2 separate regions of the Homo sapiens genome follow, and region 2 is linked to region 1. Evidence: fine-mapped expression QTL. A gene starts in region 1. The other region holds a variant in brackets. All regions are shown on one strand. Distances are between the middles of the regions.

Region 1 (9,380 bases):
TTAAGGTCTTCCCCATACCTAGTAGAGGTATGGTAGCCTGGAGAAGAAAGGGGAAAAAAGAAAGAATCATGAAGGAAAAAAACAAATATTATATAACTACTACCCTAAAACATTACTCATGTAATTTTTATCCATCCATCCTTCAATGGAGTCCCAATTTCTCCATGAAAGGTTCTCTACTATTCCAAGCCATCTCTCTATGTGGTAGCTCATTAACCACAAGTCATTTGTTTCCTTCTGTTAGATATTTGTAAATATCTTTTGTGTCAACTCATCAAGGGACAGGGTCCATGTTTCAGACTTCTTTTTTTTTTTTTTTTTTGAGACAAGGTATCACTCCATTGCCCAGGATGGAGCACAGTGGCACGACCACAGCTTACTGCAGCCTCGACCTCCTGGGCTTAAGGTATCCTCTCAGCTCAGCCTCCCATGTAGCTAAGACTGCAGGCATGCACCAGCAACCCGGATAATTTTTGGTATTTTTTGTAGAGATGGGGTTTCACCATGTTGCCCAGGTTGGTCTCAAACTCCTGAGCTCAAGCAATCTGCCTACCTTGGCCTCCCAAAGTTCTGGGATTGCAGGTGTGAACCACCACACCTGGTCTAGACTTCTTTATATCACTTCATAAGTTTCAATAAACATTTAATTAATTATTTATCTAATTATAGTTTACAACAGAGAGATCCTAGAAAATCTAGATGAACAAGAGTAACAATGAGCTAAATGCTCCTCTATTCCTAGTAACAGAATCATTATCTCACCAAACCTCAAGATTTTTAACCTCATTTCTCATTTAGTGTTAAAGAATATATGTCACATCTAGGCTGTTTTTCCCTTTTCTTGACAAGATGTCTTAGGTAAAGAGATCAGTGAATAGCAAATTATGGTGGTTTCCTTTTTTTTTTTCCTGCTGTTTGCTAACAAAGTCACCATTCACGTAAACTTTAGGGCTATTAGACATGATTCACCCCTAACATACCATGTAGCTTTATTCGAAAAGTAAATGGCTCCAGCCTGGGCAACAGAGCAAGACTCTGCCTCAAAAAAATAAAAATAAAAAAACAAAAAAAATACAGCTGCTTAATCCTTGATTTTAGTTATAATTTACAATAATCATTACCTGCTTAACCTCTGGATCAAATGCCTGCTCCTTTGCTGAAATAACTGTGTACAGTGTATATACAAATATATACAGATACATATCCACACCCCAAAAGTTTCTTCATTGGCTGTCTATGAGTTTAGGCTGTTTAAATAATTTGCAACACATTATTGTAGTAAATAGAATAAAATTATATGCAGATTAGCTCTTTCTTTTCTTACAAAATACAGCAACACATACATGCTAGGACAACTTTGCAAAAACTTACTTATTCTGTGCCTTTCCAGTTCTGTCACTGTACTATAGTACTACAAGGCAGGTTAGGCAACAATTAGGAAAGTTTCAGAACCATTAGTCTCACAAACTTTCATCTAGGATGCCTCTGGTGGCCTCTGAAGAGATCTTCTCCAAACCCTCATCTGATGCTATTGCAACTAAGTAGACGAACTACGGTTCTCAGAATATACACATTAATAAGGCTCTTTTTAGCTTCACCCTTTTCACTTCTGTGCTTTATGATGGACTACAATACTCATAATGCAATACTACAGCCCCTATCATTGACACTATCATTTCCATCAAACACAAAGAAACCTCCTTCTGGATTACCAAAAACTAAGAAATCTGGGCCAGGCGCAGTGGCTCATGCCTGTAATTCCAATACGTTGGGAGGCGGAGGTGGGCAGATCATGAGGGCAGGAGCTAGAGACCATCGTGGCCAACATGGTGAAACCCCTTCTCTACTAAAAATACAAAAATTAGCTGGGCGTGGTGGCACATGCCTGCAATCCCAGTTACTGGGGAGGCTGAGGCAGGAGAATTGCTTGAACCAGGGTGTCAGAGGTTGCAGTGAGCCGAGATCAGGCCACTGGGCACTCCAGCCTGGCGATAGAGCGAGACTCTGTCTCAAAAAAAAAAAAAAAAAAAAAAAAAAAAACTTAAGAAATCTCTTAGTTCTAGTGTTATGAGAACTAGGAGTAACCTGAACTCAGAAGTTGTTTATGAGAGTATAAACTGGTACATTCACTTTAGAAAGCATTCTAAAGATAAACATGTGCACATCCAACAATTACGCTCTTGTTTTTATATCCTCGTGACATGAACACCAAAAGATATGCAAACATATTTATAACAGCATTTTTCATAATATTAACAAATGCAACAACCCAAATGTTAATTACAAGATGACTGTGAGGCCCGGCGTGGTGGCTCACGCCTATAATCCCGGCACTTTGGGAGGCTGAGGTGGGCAGATCACGAGGTCAGGAGTTCAAGACTAGCCTGGCCAATATGGTGAAACCCTGTCCCTACTAAAAATACAAAAATTAGCCAGGCATGGTGGCGGGCGCCTATAATCCCAGGTACTTGGGGGGCTGAGGCAGGAGAATTACTTGAACCCGGGAGGTGGAAGCTGCAGTGAGCCGAGACTGTGCCACTGCACTCCAGCCTGGGCAACAAGAGTGAAACTCTGTCTGAAAATAAATAAACAAACAAAAGATGACTATGGTATATTCACACAACAGAATTTCACACACAGTAAAAACCTAATGAACTACAGTTAAACACACAACATGGATGAATCTCAGAAACCATGAATTTTAAAAAGGAAGTCACATAAGGTCATATGCAATAAACTATCATATTTGTACATTGCAAAGAAACCAGTAAAATGAAACATTATTATTTAGAAAAATAACAATGTAATTTTACTTATTTCATTTTATTTTGAGACAGGGTCTCTTGCCCAGACAGGTGTGCAGTGGCACAATCACGGCTCACAACAGCCTTGACCTCCCAGCTCAAGCAATCGCAATCCTCCCAAGCAGCTGGGACTACAGATGTGCATCCCCACGCCCAACTAATTTATTTTATTTTTTGTAGAGATAGGGTTTTGCTATGTTGCCCAGGCTGGTCTCGAACTCCTGGGCTCAAGCAATCTTTCTACTTTGCCTCCCAAAGTGCTGGGATCACAGACATGAGACACCACACCAGGACCCCTGGTAATTTTGAAAAGGAAAAGTGTTTAAAAACAGTTTAGTGGGAGTCAGGGAGATGGACTGAGGAGTACACATTTAGCTTCAACAGGACTGGTAAAGTTACAATTCTTAAGTTGGGTAATAGTAGGCTTATTCGTTTCATTAAGCTTTAAACATATGTGTATGTGTTTTGAGTGTGTATCATCTAGAATCTCTGGAAAACTAACATTCCAGCTAATCATAAGGTGACATTCCTGATAACTGGGAACGATGCCAAGGAATAAAATCACTTTATTATTACTATTTGATAACTTTTGTAGTAAGAAAATGACAGGTGCCTCGAAAAATTAAAGCAAGGGGTGGGTAAGGGAAGTGAGTGTGGCTAAAAAAGCAACATGAGGAATCCTTATAGTGCTGAATATGTTCTTTATCTTAACTGTATCAACATAAATACCCTGCTTATGATATTACACCATCGTTTCAAAAGATGTTACCATTGGGAGAAACAGGGTTAGGTGTATATTAGATTTGTGTTATTTCTTCCAACTGCATGTAAATCTAAAACTACTTCAAAATAGAAGTTTACTTTTAAAAACAACAATAGAAAAAGGTCCTTTTAGTCCTGGATTTCTCCACCTTGGCACTACTGACATTTTGCAGCACCTAATTATTTCTTGTGGGTCTGTCCTGGGAATTGAAGGGTAGCATCCCTGGCCTCTATCCACTAAATGCCAGTAATGTGCCTCCATTCGTGACAACCAAAAATGTCTCCATACATGCCAAATGTCCTCAGGGGGGGAAAATTGCCCCAGTTGAGAACCAGTGCTCTAGTCATAAAAGCCAAGAAGAGATATGAAAATGTTCCTAATTGAAGAAGATGAAAGAGATATAACAACTAAACGCAATACTTGATCCTGGACTGAATCCTGTCCTGGAGGGTAAAGAATGCTATAAAGAACATTATTAGGCCAATTAACAAAATTGAAATTAAATGGTAGATTAAATAAAAGTATTGTATCAATATTAAATATACCTAAGTTGGTAACTGTAGCGTACTTACGTAGGAGATTACTGCTATGCTTAGGAAATACATACTGAAGTATTTAGGGGAAAAGGATCGTGATGTATGCAATCTACCATCAAATGATTCAGAAAAAAATATATAGAAAGATATATACACGTGAATAGTATATATATCTGTGTGTATATGTATTTAATGTATATATTGACATATATAGACATATCTACGTAGCAGGTGGATCTGATTAAAGAGTATGCAAGTGTGTTCTTTGAACTATATTATTTTTGTAACTTCGCTGTATGTTTAAACTAATTACAATTCAGGTGTGGGGTTTAAGTGGAAGAAAAAAAAAAAACTTTTGGCCGGGCACGGTGGCTCACGCCTGTAATCCCAGCACTTTGGGAGGCCGAGGCGGGTGGATCACGAGGTCAGGAGATTGAGACGATCCTGGCTAACACGGTGAAACCCCGTATCTACTAAAAATACAAAAACAAAATTAGCCGGACGTGGTGGCGGGCACCTGTAGTCCCAGCTACTCCCGCCTGGGCGACAAAGCGAGACTCCGTCTCAAAAAAAAAAAAAAAAAAAACTTTTATAAATCCTAAAGGCAGGTTTCACAGCAGTAGTACAGCATAAGTGATAAACATCCCAAGAAGATAATGACTACTAACGGGATAAATTCCTACTTCAACCCCAAGACATTCGTTGGAAAGAATTATCTACCTTCAGCCTCTCTCTCTCTCCTTGCCTACTTTCTGGAGGTGACCCCCTGAACAGTGCGGGACAGAAAATTAATCTATCCCATTAAAAAAAAAAAAAATTTCTAGGAAGTGACTCAATAAACCTACATCTCCGCTCGATTTCTCCACAAATCACTGAGGCATCTTCATCCTCAACAATTAAGAAGCAAAATCGAGGAAAGCATACAAGTGTTTCAAAGAAAACCACTTATGCACTCAGCTGAGCAAGAACGTTAAGTGGACTAGAGAAGAGACAACACGGAATGTCTAGGAGGAGTGAGTAAAAAGGAAGGACTAAAAAGAGATAAATCAGGAGCCAGTCTGAGAGAGCTAGAATGCGTATGCCCGCCAGAAAAAAAAGTATTCCAATGAGTGCGAGTGTGTCAGCGGGAGAGGGGTAGCTCACCTGGCTGTGGTAAGCAGAGGGTGCTGAGTGCCCACCAGCTTCCGCACCTGCATAGCGATGTTGCTGAGCTCGTCGCTCAGCAGGCAGCGAAGGCTCATGAAGGACGTGGGGTACCCCACGATCTTCTCCGCCTCTGACACTACCTGATTCCAGTGGGCCGGGGACTTGGAGGACCGACCACGCCAAGAGCCCACCGAGGAGATGGTGTCGAGGGACGGGGACCACCACAGGCGACGCGGGGAACCCGAGGCTCCAAGATAACGTGGCAAGTGCAACAGCAGCTGCCGAAAGTTCATGGTTTGAGTCTGGAAGGGTCTGGGACCTGGGGGTATCCAGAAGTGCCGCGGGAAACAAACCAGGGGCAGAGGAGGAACTTACAGTAACTAAAAGGAAGCGGCAATTCTTGACCCTCAGAGTAAGGTGGCTTCCTGGAGCAGTGACCAGAAACGAACTTTAACTGCTGCTTTCTGCAGCCCAGGCTGGGCAAACAACAGTCCCAGCTCAGCACTGCCCCCGGCCACCCGGGGTAGAAACCACAGCCACTGCCTATGTGGAGGACGCCATATTGGAGGCATGGAATGCGGCCTGCCGTAAAGACAGAGGCGGGTTGTTAAGTATACTCTCTACTTTACGGCGTACCCGAGAACGCCCCCGCAGGGGCGGTGCTTTGGAGGTGAACCCGGGTTGGGAGGTTCAGCTCCTCCCACCCCGCCGCTCTGGGCCAGCAAAGGTCGTCAGTGACAGGGATCAGTTGTGGGCGGCGAGTGGTCCCTCTGCACACGGTATCTGGGCCGAGTCTGGATTCATTAGAGTCCCCGGCGCCCAGCACTGAGTGGCATGCATAAGTATTGGTGTCACGAACAACGGTCAGCCCCCGGCTTGCCCGCAAGGAAGGGCGTCGGGCGGAGGCACCAGTTCCTCCCGGAAGCTTTTTGTCGCTATCGCCACCAGCCCCTGGCAGTGGCAGTGGCCGTGGCCGGGCGTGAAGGCGGCCTCTCGGGCTGCATGCCTCCTGGAGCTGGGGCCACGTCTCAGTGGTGGAACGCCTAGTCGGGGCGTGGGGCTGAGCCCTCGTGTCCTCAGGGCCCAACCAGACATAAGGCAGCGTGGTGCGGCGGAAAGGGGTCCCAAGGAAAGTCCTCGGATCCAACTTCGAATTACCGGCCTCCTCGCTGAGCCTTGGGAGAAACAGCGGTGCCTCCTTCCCGCGGGTGCGGAGAGGAAGAATGAAACGTTGCCTACTCCCTGCCTCTTATCTTCCTCTTTATGCCTAGCCTGGAGCTCAACTCCAGGATTGAAGACTATCGCTGACCGGAGTGCTTTTCACGTACTAGTTCATGTATTACTTTATTTAATCCTCAGAACAACCTCATTAAGTAGATAATATTAGTATTCTCCGTGTTTTGTATGAGGAAACTAAGGTGCAGTCGAGTCGCGTAAGTTCCCTAAGACCACACTAGACAGGGATGTGAGCCCAGACAATCTGGTTTCAGAATCCGTATTCTAACCGAAAGATTACACCGTCTAAATAATAGGCTCCCATCCACTCTTTTCTCCTTATTGCTGAGAGGAAACAGTCAATATGATTATCTTTTAAGTAATGCTACCTATTTTTTTTTCAAATGTGCCTAAGATCTTACCTCCTTTCTTATCACCTAAAACAGGTGTTAACCGTTCTTAATAAAGGATATATTATCCATTTTTTACACTCTTAAAAATAGCTTATAAAACTCTCTAAAACTTTCAAAATCCTTCCAAATTCATGGTATTTTATTTTTATTTTTTATTTATTTTTTGAGATGGGTCTTGCTCTGTCACCCAAGCTGGAGTACAGCGGCGCGATTTCAGCTCACTGCAACCTCCGCCTCCCAGTTTCAAGCAATTCTTGTGCCTCAGCCTCCCAAGTGGCTGGGACTACAGGCGCCTGCCACCACGCCCGGCTAACTTTTGTATTTTTAGTAGAGACTGGGTTTCACCATGTTGACCAGGCTGGTCTCAAACTCCTGACCTCGAGTGATCCGCCCACTTCGGCTTCCCAAAGTGCTGGGATTACAGGTGTGAGCTACCAGCTACCATGCCCAGCCTGTCAGTATTTTTTAAATGAGCATCATGCATAATACTGTACCAGCCTCTTGAGCTACAAATAAAGATTGGGACTTAAAGAGTAGTTGTTCACTTTGCAAAACAAGATGATTTTCTCTACAAAAGATTTAGCTTCATACTCTCCCTTTGGCAAGTTTTCCTTGTGATTTAAATTTTTTATTTACAAAAATTCAGTTTAGGTGTAACTTTTCAGGGGCACATTTTATTTAACATGAATTGTGATTATAAGTATCAAACACAGTCTATGCCCTTAAAGTAAGTAAGCTGAAGTTTGAAAATAATTCCTGTGAAAGAGATAAACTCTTGGCAACAAAATTCAGGTCTGTTAGGAGATGAAAATAAATATGGAGAGTGAGATACTTTACCATTCCAGGAGATGAAAATAAATATGGAGAGTGAGATACTTTACCATTCCAAAAAGTTCCAAGGCCAGAGCTTCTGGGTTATCCAAGGTGAAAGAAGTCATGAAAATACAAAGATAGATAGAGACTAATGTGATATATTGTGCACCTGAGGCTGTTTCTTCAGCCTCATGGTACCTTAAGGGTAACTTTTCACGCAATTTCCTCAATAGCAATTCACAGCATGTACTTTAATTTCTCCACAGAAGCCAAGTGCATTATTCTCTGGTCATACTCTATTAACCAAGTTTTTGATTATTCATGGGACTTTGGGTCCCATTTACTTTAAATAATCAGCATTTTCCTTTATACTTACAGTTAAAAGGTTGCATTATACTTAATGATAATCAGTTTTTAGAAGGTTAAAATGGTATTTGTTCTTTAATCTCCCAGATAAATATATAATTCCTTAGAGTCTTTATGATTAAAGAAATTTCTGAATTGCTAGTGACTTTTGGAGAAACAGGGAGGGGGAGTATCTGTGATTCTGCCCTTCCTCTGCCACTGATAATAGTTATATTAAAGATGTCTGTGAATGTGTGCATAAAGAAAGAATACAGCAGGATTTCTCAGCCTTGGCATTTTTGGCGTTTTGGACCAGATAATTCTTTGTTGGGGGAAGGGGGGCAGTCCTGAGTATTGTACGGTGTTGAGTAGCATTCCTGACCTCTACGTACTAGATGTTAAGCAGCACCCCTTTCCAAGTTGTGACAACGAGGTATGTCTCCAAACATTACCAAATGTCTGTCACCCTGGAGTGCAAAATTGCCCACTGGGAAATGGGAGATGCTGAAAGAAAAAAACAGTGTCCATCCATGACATTTACTCCTACAAAGCAGCAAAAAAGAAGTCCTGGGTGTGAGTAGCCCTGCAGGTTAGAGAGTGGTCACTCCACAACCTATGGAAACTTTCAGCCACACTCAGGGACTTCCCCTTGGCATCGGAGTTGTTTTGGAGACAGCACGCTGACAAAAAATGATCACAGTTCCTCCTCTACCTTTTTCAGGATTCTGAAGCTTATACCAGTAGAACTCACTGGGCACTCTGCATTCTACTGACCTTAGAAAGAAGTAAGGTCATATTTGATGTCCTTTTCTTTGGCTGGAAACCCGAGCCAGCCTTGGAAAATACAAGCTCTTAACAAGGATAGTGCTGTGGGCGCTGGCATTTCCATGATTAGGTGAGTGGAAATAGATAGAGATATTGCAGCCACCCTCCTTATGTCACCCTCAATACAATCACCTATTGTTTATCCTGAGAGAGTTCTTCCAAAGGCAGATGAAAGCGTCGTGGTGTATCTTGGGCAAAGATGATAAAAGGAGGCAAAAATCCAAAAGTTTGACCACCTACTTGGTTAGCAGGCTATGGAGATGCCACATAGTGCCATTGAGAATGCAAAATGGTACATGGCAGCTATGGAAGGGAATTTGATAATCCTCAGCAAAATTACATATATATTGCCCTTTGCCCTAGAAACCCAATTCTAGGAAAATATCCCAAATAATGACTTAAGCACAAGGTTATTCATTGCAGTATTATTTGTAATAGCAAAAGATTGGAAACAATCCAGATAACCCCAAATAAGAGATTGGTTGAACAAACTCGAGTAGATCTACACAATGAAACTATG
Region 2 (9,380 bases), 280 kb before region 1:
CAGGCATGAGCCACTGCACCCAGCCAGGTTTATACTATTCTAACCATACTTCAACTGGTTGTCTTTGCAACAATCAAATTAAAACCAACAAGCGTTTATTGGACACCTATATAACCTAGGCATTTGGTATATGCTGGAAATACAGAGAGGAACACAGTTGCTGCCTCCCAGGACCACCTGTTAGAGAGGTAGTCACAGGCCTGTAGAACAGAGAGGGTTAAGTAGAACAGTGAAGGAATGGACCCATGACCTTGGTTCTTTTTTGTTCTTTTTTTAAATACGCCTTTATTTTGGAGACAGGTCTCACTCTGTCACCTAGGCTGAAGTGCAGTAGCAAGATCATAGTTCACTGTAGCCTCAACCTCTTGGGCTTGAGCCATCCTCTCACTTTAGCCTCCTGAGTAGCTGGCACTACAGGCACGTGCCACCATGCCTGGCTAATTTTTGTATTTTTTGTAGAGATGGGTTTTGCCATGTTGCCCAGAGGCTGATCTTAAACTCCTGGGATCAAATGATCCTCCTGCCTCAGCCTCCCAAAGTGCTAGGTAACAGGTGTGAACCATCACAACCGTCCATGATCTTGGTTCTAATAGCCATAGATAAAAGACCACAATTTTTTTCAAGTTCTTTTTTTTTCTTTTTGAGACAGCGTCTCACTCCATCACCTAGGCTGGAGTGCAGTGGTATGATCAAAGCTCACCACAGCCTCAAATTCCAGCCTCAAGCAATCTTCCCACCTTAGCCTTCCGAGTAGCTAGGGCTATAGGCATGCATCACCATGCCTGGCTAATTTATTTATTTTTATTCTGTGGACATGAGCATGGCGGGTGGTCTCATCATGTTGCCCAGGCTGGTCTTGAATTCCTGGCCTTAAGTGATCTTTCCATCTCGGCCTCCCAAGGAGCTGGGATTACAGGCGTGAGGCACTGCACTCAGCCTAAAAAAGGCATTTCCATTCCTGCCTTCATCTACATTTTGAATGGGCAAAGTCCAAGCTGATGCATAGAAAGAACTTTCCAAATCTTCAAGCCCTTATGGCTTGAAGATCGCTGTAGTCATAAACAGCACAATAAATACGAAAGGTGAATTAACAGTCAGTGTTTAATTTCTCTGATATAGCACTTTAGGGCACTAATATAATTAAATCTCTAATTAAGTCAACTAAATAATTGTATAAGTGCAGTATCACCTGAAATAAATTAAGTCCAAATCCCCTGCTAGGGGATCCAATTAAAGATATTAACAAAGAGAGAAGAGGATACAAAGTACTTAAAATTAAGTGCATTATTATTTAACATTTATTAAACACCTTTTGAATGATACATGTTGCTCTTACATAAAAGACCCTCTTGAGAAAATCACTGTATGTCTCTGAAAACTATGTAGTTCAAAAGTTCTAAAAGTTCTTTTAAAATATTAAAGAGAAGGCCCCGGCATGGGTTCTGAGTAGTCTTAGGAGAAGTGGAGGCAGCAGCCACTTCTGCCCAAGGAAACTAGAGAAAGACTTTAAGACTTAGGAGAGGCCAGGAATGGTGGCTCACACCTGTAATCCTAGCACTTTGGGAGGCTGAGGCAGGAGAATCACTTGAACCTGGGAGGCAGAGGTTGCAGTGAGCTGACATTGCGCCATTGCACTTGAGTCAAGGCAACAAGAGTGAAACTCCGTCTCAAAATACATAAATAAATAATAATTTTAAAAAAGAGGACAAAGGAGCATTCTGAAACACAGACCAGTGAATTTATGGAGAATTTATGGCAAAACTTCAAAAAGGGTTGTTAAACAGATGGTTTGTGGGCTCTAGAAAAAAAGGCAATGGTGGTGGCAGCCCCAGGATAAGTGGGTCACAATAAGCAAGTCATAATAAAACACACACACACACATTCTTTTTTTTTTTCTTCTTCTTTTTTTTTTAAAATGTGGCCACTTGGCTGGTAGCTTCAGAAATAGGATAGAGTGGCTGGGCACGGCAGCTCACGCTTGAAATCCCAGCACTTTGGGAGGCCGAGGCAGGCAGATCACGAGGTCAGGAGTTCGAGACCAGCCTGGCCAACATGGTGAAACCCCTTCCCTACTAAAAATACAAAAATTAGCTGGGTGTGGTGGCGTGCACCTGTTGTCCCAGCTACTGGGGAGGCTGAGGCGGGAGAATCGCTTGAACCCAGGAGGCGGAAGTTGCAGTGACCTGAGATTGTGCCACTGCACTCCAACCTGGCAACAGAGCGAGACTCTGTCTCAAAAAAAAAAAAAAAAGATAGAGTAACTTTGGATTTTTGAAGTTTAGTCCTTCATGAATAAGGCAGAGAAACAGGGTACAGGTCACAGTATGGTAAGATAGATTTGAACATGTAAAATAATTATTCCTAGGAAATGTTTAGTAGTGGATTTATATTGAACAGGAAAACAGGCCAGGCGCGGTGGCTCACAGCTGTAATCCCAGCATTTTGGGAGGCCGAGGCGGGCGGATCACCTGAGGTCACGAGATTGAGACCATCCTCGCCAACATGGTGAAACCCTGTCTCTACTAAAAATACAAAAATTAGTTGGGCGTGGTGGTGCACACCTGTAGTCCCAGCTACTCGGGAGGCTGAGGCAGGAGAATTGCTTCAACCTGGGAAGCAGAGGTTGCAGTGAGCCGAGATCGCGCCACTGCACTCCAGCCTGGTGATGGAATGAGACTCTGTCTCAAAAAAAAAAAAAAAAAAAAAAAAACGCTTAGAACAGGAAAGCAGTCTCTAGTGTCATGCTACCAGAACTTAATGCTTGGTTTCTTCTTCTTATCACGTTTCTATGCATTACTTGAATGAAGATGAAGAAGAAATGCATATTAAATTTTAATTTTCAGATGTCACACAGCCAAGAGAGATAGGTAACACATGGATAGTATCAAAATTTTAACGGTATTGACATGTTGAACAAAAGACTGATAGTAGCCAGTAAAATCTAACAGGGATAATTATATAGTTGTATATTTAGGTTTCAAAAATTAATTGTAAAAGTATAAGCTGCAATTTGGCAGTGACTCATGAAAAATGTTGAGAATCTTTAATAACCACAGTCTTGGTATCAGCCAAGGCTGTGATGTAGGTACAAAAAAATGCAAATGCAAACTTTGGCAGCATCAGCAGGTGTACATGTCCAAAACACAGGCAGGAATGGTCTCACAGCACACGGACGGTCAACTAATGTTTAGAAAACTATTTTCAGTCCTGGGGGCCATGAGTCAAGAGGGGCACTGGCATGATAGATTGGGTCCAGTATTAGGATGAAGAAGGATTTGGAAACATGTCACCTAGGGAATGTTTAACCTGGAGGAAGGGAGGATATAAAAGCCATCTTCAAATATCTGAAGTAATTAAATGGAAGAAGGAACAGTCCTGTTCTATGTGCTTCAGGGGACAGAACAAACAGCAACAAGGTAAAGTTTCTCGGAAGAAGATTCCACTTATAAATAAGAAAAGAACCTTCAAATGACTAGAGTTGTCTAACAACAGAATGATTATTTTTGACAAGCTGTGGGTTCCCTATTATTGGAAGCCTTCAGTGACTGGATGACCACATGTAGGAGAAAATATGACTGAAACTCTTCGCCAGTGTGAAAGATAGGACGACGCTGCCTCTAAAGGTCTACCCAAGCCCAAGATTCTAGCTGATAGTGCTTAACTGAAAGGTCTTGACAGCTTCTGAGTGGCAAGACTTGGTACAAAAGGAAAAGCTACAGTTTTCTAATACAATAAACTGTGAAATGCATTGCAAACAACATAAAAGCATTCCTTTTTACTCAGAGTTAGAAATTATTTGCAAGAGTCTATAGGAAAAAAAATTCACCGATCTTAATTAAACATCTTAATCTGACAAAACTAGAAAGAGACAAAGAGAATTTTAAATAGATTTCTCAATCATATGAGATTCACATGCAAAAATACAGTAAGAATAGTAGTGTTTCCCAATATTAGAAAAGCAATAATAATAACAGCAATGACAATAAAGACAATCTCATATATAGTACTTACTGTGTGCCCAGCACTGTTCTAAGATCTCTCTCTTGGCCAGGTGTGGTGGTTCACGCCAGGAATCCCAGCACTTTGGGAGGCCAAGGTGGGTGGATCATGACGTCAGGAGTTCAAGACCAGCCTGGCCAACATGGTGAAACCTGTTTCTACTAAAAATACAAAAATTAGCCAGGCATGCTGGCACACGCCTGTAATCCCAGCTACTCGGGAGGCTGAGGCAGGAGAATTGCTTGAACCTGGGAGGTGGAGGTTGCAGTGAGCTGAGATGGTGCCATTGCACTCCAGCCTGGGCGACAGAGTGAGACTCCATCTCAGGAAAAAAAAAAAAAAAGATCTCTCTCTCTCTCGCTCTATCTGTATCTATACCTATATCTATCTTCTACCCTCACAACAGCCCTACGAGGTAGATGCTACTATTATTTTCATTTTACAAAGGAACAAATTTAGGTAAGAGCAAGTTGTCCAAAGTAACACAGATGATAAGTGCTGGAGTCAAGATGAGTTCTTGTTCTTAACCAATATGCTATAGTCCCTTTCTTTCACTCTTAAACAAACCAGAAAGCATTACAATTTCATTTGAGAACATAACACATACCTATATCGCTAATGTCCTTTGCATGCCTATGTACAAGGACAGATTTTTTAAAAGATACATATCACAGATTAGAAAAAAAATACCTCCAGTCAAATAGCTTATGATAAAGCCATATTTATAGAGATTGCAGAAAATTGAAGCCATTATTTAATTATGTACCTCTACTGCAACACATATATATTTTCCACCAACCTAAAAATGCCATATGGTTGTAGAACAAATGTCAGTAGAAATTGGAGGTAGAAATTTTCCACATTTTCTGCTAAGAAAAAGGTCATGCATATCTCAATTGATTAAGTATATTCTTCTGGTCATACTTTTTTGTTGTTGTTGTTAAACCTAAAGGCACTGAGCAAGACAGGTATTATCTCATCCGCCACTGAGTCACAAAACAAAACTAGTATATTTTTACTTAAATCCTTAACTAACCAAAACTTATTTTTATTAAAATTATCAACCAAAGGCACT[C/G]ACTGCAGTAGTGGTATTTGTGGTTTCATGCAGTGACAATACCAAATATTGCCCCAGGTTATTTTCACTGCTTTTATTTATTTATTTATTTATTTATTGAGATAGAGTCTCATTCTGTCTCCCAGGCTGGAATGCAATGGCACAATCTCAGCTCACTGCAAACTCCACCTCTCGGGTTCAAGTGATTCTTCTGCCTCAGCCTCCCCAGTAGCTGGGATTATAGGTAAGCGCCACCACACTCAGCTAATTTTTGTATTTTTAGTAGAGACGGGGTTTCACCATGTTGGCCAGGCTGATCTCAAACTCCCGACCTCAGGTGATCTGCCGGCCTCAGTCTTCCAAAGTACTGGGATTACAGGTTGAGCCCCTGCGCCCGGCCAAAACATGTCTATTTTTGAAAAATGAATTCCCAAATCATATTGACTATTTAAAATGTATTCTATTCCCCCTTAACACACACACACACATACACACACACACACACACACACACACACAAATATAAAAGCATGTTTAGTATAGTTTTTCTTGCCCTGTCCTCCACGTTTATCAATTTTACTGTTTTCTAATTTAAAACTGTATGGCTATTATGCTTAGTCTGGATGGTATGCAGCCTCCTGTTGGGAGTGAGACTTCAGAACTTATTTCAAGGCTCAACCTCTCTGCTAAGTACGTTTGTGAGTTCACGCTGTGGCCTGCCATCCACAAAGAGCTGAACACAACGCAACAGCTCATTTCGTACAAATTATCATAACTGAACAGATATAACCATACTACTGTATATGTATAAATACTCCTAAACCATATGGTAGGGATACATTTATATGATATAAAATATATCTACATCATATAAACATGTTTATATGGTTTAGAGGTATTTATATATAGTTTAAATAATTTTACTGGTACACTTAAAATTGACCTAATTGTTGACAGAATGGCAGAGAAGAACTGAGACAAAGTAGTGCTTGCTATGTCAAGGAGTGAAGGTCAATTTGGATGACAGAGTGAGACCCTGTCTCAAAAAAAAACCAAAAAAACCTGCATTTCAGGGTATGAGCAGACATGCCTGCTCTCAAAATGTAATTAAATGAGACAAAATGGACGAAGTAATTCTTTTTTTTTTTTCTATTTTCTTTACATGTATCTGCTGAAACACGTAATGTAATTCTTTTTTTTTTTTTTTTTGGGAGACAGGGTCTCACTCTCACTCAGGCTGGAGTGCAGTGTTGCAATCTTGGCTCACTGCAACCTCTGCCTCTCGGGTTCAAGTGATTCTTGTGCCTCAGCCTCCCGAGTAGCTGAGATTACAGGCATGTGCCACTGTGCCTGGCTAATTTTTGTATTTTTAGTAGAGACGGGGTTTTGCCATGTTGGTCAGGCTGGTCTCAAACTCAAACTCCTGATCCCAGGTGATCCGCCCGCCTTGGCTTCCCAAATTGCTGGGATTACAGGCGTGAGCCACCATGCGCAGCCTGTAATTCTTAATTTATAAACTTGCATCAACATTTGATAGGTTTGGCATTTGAGGTTAGTAATATAGAATTATATTACATTTAGGATTAATTTCACAGGAAAAGCAATCACTGCCTCTTGGTTGTCATGTCTTCCAAAGGAATATTTGGTGATTTATAAATAATCATGGATTTATCCATATTCTGATTCAAAGTTAATTTTTAATTTTAGTATCATATTCCAAAGAGAAACTTAATTCTACACATTGAAATTCAAAAGCAAAACTGGGACTGTAAAGCTTTTTAGCAAACTCTGTAATAGAAATTCAACAAGCAAAACATGTCATAGGCTGTAGACTGCAGCAATGAGCCACTCTTGCCTGTAGCTTTTTTAGGAGTGAATCAATAAATAGTAAGCTCTGTAATCTCATGACAAATACTAAGCTGGTTATTTAATTAAAAAGAATACTGTGGGATGAGAGCATTCACATCATGTAGGAATCAAATAGTCCTGGGGGTATTTGAGGAATATATAAACTATGTTAAGAGTGAGTTTCGGTTTCTGTTATTTTACTTGAATCCCTATCTTACTTATACATTTCTTATATCCTTCTCATGTTCCAATTTTCATGTGCTTTAGTATTTGGATGCTGATACCTAGGGACCACTTGCCCCAAACTACCACTATCATCATCCATGTGATCCTAGATTCCTAGCATCCTAAAATACATCCTGATATAAGATGAGTTTAAAACACATTTATAATTTCACAAGAAAGCACCTCAAACGACAGAGAAATTCTATCTACATTTATTAATGAAATAAATGTAGGCTTCAGCCACGTCTTCTAGGTAGGTTGCATCAGTGTGGGGGCCAATGTATGAGGTGAAGAATGTATATTTACTCTGTGCCATGTAAGTGTAATCATATCTGCAAGATTAACAGCTCTTCCAAATGTAGGAGGTCTCTACGCTATGGTGTTATGGAAGGTGTATTTGTTAACTTAGATTGTGCCTCTTTCAAGAGAATGATGATCAGAGTTTGTTTTAAATGGTTATTATCTATAAAACTTTCTTTTCAAAAGTGAAGCATGCTTATCAGCTTAAAGTCACAATAATTATTACACTGGTTCAGCAAACATAAATCCTAGCACAGTCATTTATTAGACAATCACATTTCTGAGACCAGAATTATGTTAGATTATAGACTAATACACACCGTTTTCTGGATGCTTGCAAGATCAGAGCCTGAATACAACAACAACTTTTTGTAGTATGTCTAAAGCACTTTGAGAAGCAGGATGGTGGTAAAGAATACACACTGCTGCTGGGCGAAGTGGCTCACATCTGTAATCCCAGCACTTTGGGAGGCTGAGGTGGGCGGATCACTTGAGGACAGGAGTTCGAGGCCAGCCTGGCCAACATAGTGAAACCCTGTCTCTTAAAAAAAACAAATAACAAAAGAGAATACACATTGTGAAGTCAGCAGACCTGAGTAGAATCTTGACCCTGTGAGATAATTGTGTGGACACTGTTAGGTTATTTGAGCTCTTCTCTATAAAAAGAGGGGATTCACAGAATTCGATAGAACCATTTGATTAAGGTGTTTAGTGTGTGTCTTAAACAGTGTACGCTGCAAAGCACGCATACAATGGCATGCATCTTAAAGAAAGTACAGCACATAGAAAGGTCTACCCATTTTTCTGACAGCTGCACACAAATCTTAGGAATCAATTAAAGATACAGGTTAGCATAATCTTCTTAGATCCAGGATAGGGAGATCTTCCACAGGGGGCACCATTGCGCTACACACTAATCAATCTTCAGAGGTACAGCTTTGGTTTTATTATGATTTAGTTAAGATCCTTCTTCTTCTTTTTTTTTTTAGATGGAGTTTCACATTGTTGCCCAGGCTGGAGTGCAGTGGTGTGATCTCAGCTCACTGCTGCCTCTGCCTCCCGGGTTCAAGCGATTCTCCTGCCTCTGCCTCCTGAATAGCTGGGATTATAGGTGCCCGCCATTACGCCTAGCTAATTATTGTATTTTTAGTAGAGACGGGGTTTCACCATGTTGGTCAGGCTGGTCTCAAACTCCTGGCCTCGTGATTCGCCCGCCTCGGCCTTCTTACAGGAGTGAGCCACAGCATCCGGCCTTAGCTAAGATCTTTCATCAAGCCAGAATGTCAAGGACTCGGGGGAAAAGGACAGAATCTACTCACCTACAATCTTTAGTAACATTTCACACTTCACTGAGCTATGCTGCAGGTCCCATGATCTCTACTGTTACCTAAGTAATTCTGTTTGAAAACTGAGGGACATAGCCACCTTGTTATTTCAGGAAAGATGGTTAAGTACATTATCAGGGATCAATACTCTGATGTGGTAAGTGGGGAGGCTGAGTAGTGCTTGGAGACACTGCATAGGAAATATAGAGGAATGGCTTCAGATGTACCAACTGAATCAACTACAGCTTTCTGATGGCTCAAACAGCTTCAAATCACAAAAATTCTTAATTCAACACAAAATCCGACAGCAGGATTAGTGTATGACTGTGGAAATATGAATCTAGGTAACGATATCTTCTAACTTACTAAAACTACGTTCAGTATCTATACAGAGGTGCCTCTCTTTTCACTCAAAAACCATAATTTTGGGAAACCCATGCCTCTCCACTATATTTTATGACAAGGAAAGAGATAGTGTTCCCTTCAGATCCACTTTAAAACAGTTTTAATGGACTAAACAGGCTTTTCTATAGGGACAGAGGGCTCTATCTTCGACATAAAGACATACAGGCTCTCCTGGTGCACAGGTGGCTTCTGACACCACAAACTGGGAGCAATAATTGAATCCAG

The links.
Region 2: its variant is fine-mapped to the expression of PDSS2 in whole blood (INTERVAL, PIP above 0.99).

Annotation. Positions count from the first base shown.
Region 1 is chr6:107,453,744-107,463,123 of GRCh38, forward strand. PDSS2 (decaprenyl diphosphate synthase subunit 2) reads right to left here and starts at 5,821. Exons shown (of 8, transcript NM_020381.4): 1 at 5,247-5,821. The coding sequence starts at 5,542. RefSeq lists enhancers at 5,692-6,141, 5,862-6,783.
Region 2 is chr6:107,170,888-107,180,267 of GRCh38, forward strand. The region is part of intron 7 of PDSS2 (decaprenyl diphosphate synthase subunit 2); the gene reads right to left. Among named protein-coding and RNA genes, the nearest start is that of BEND3, 60 kb to the left of the region's middle. The variant C/G (reference allele first, on the strand shown) is at 5,075.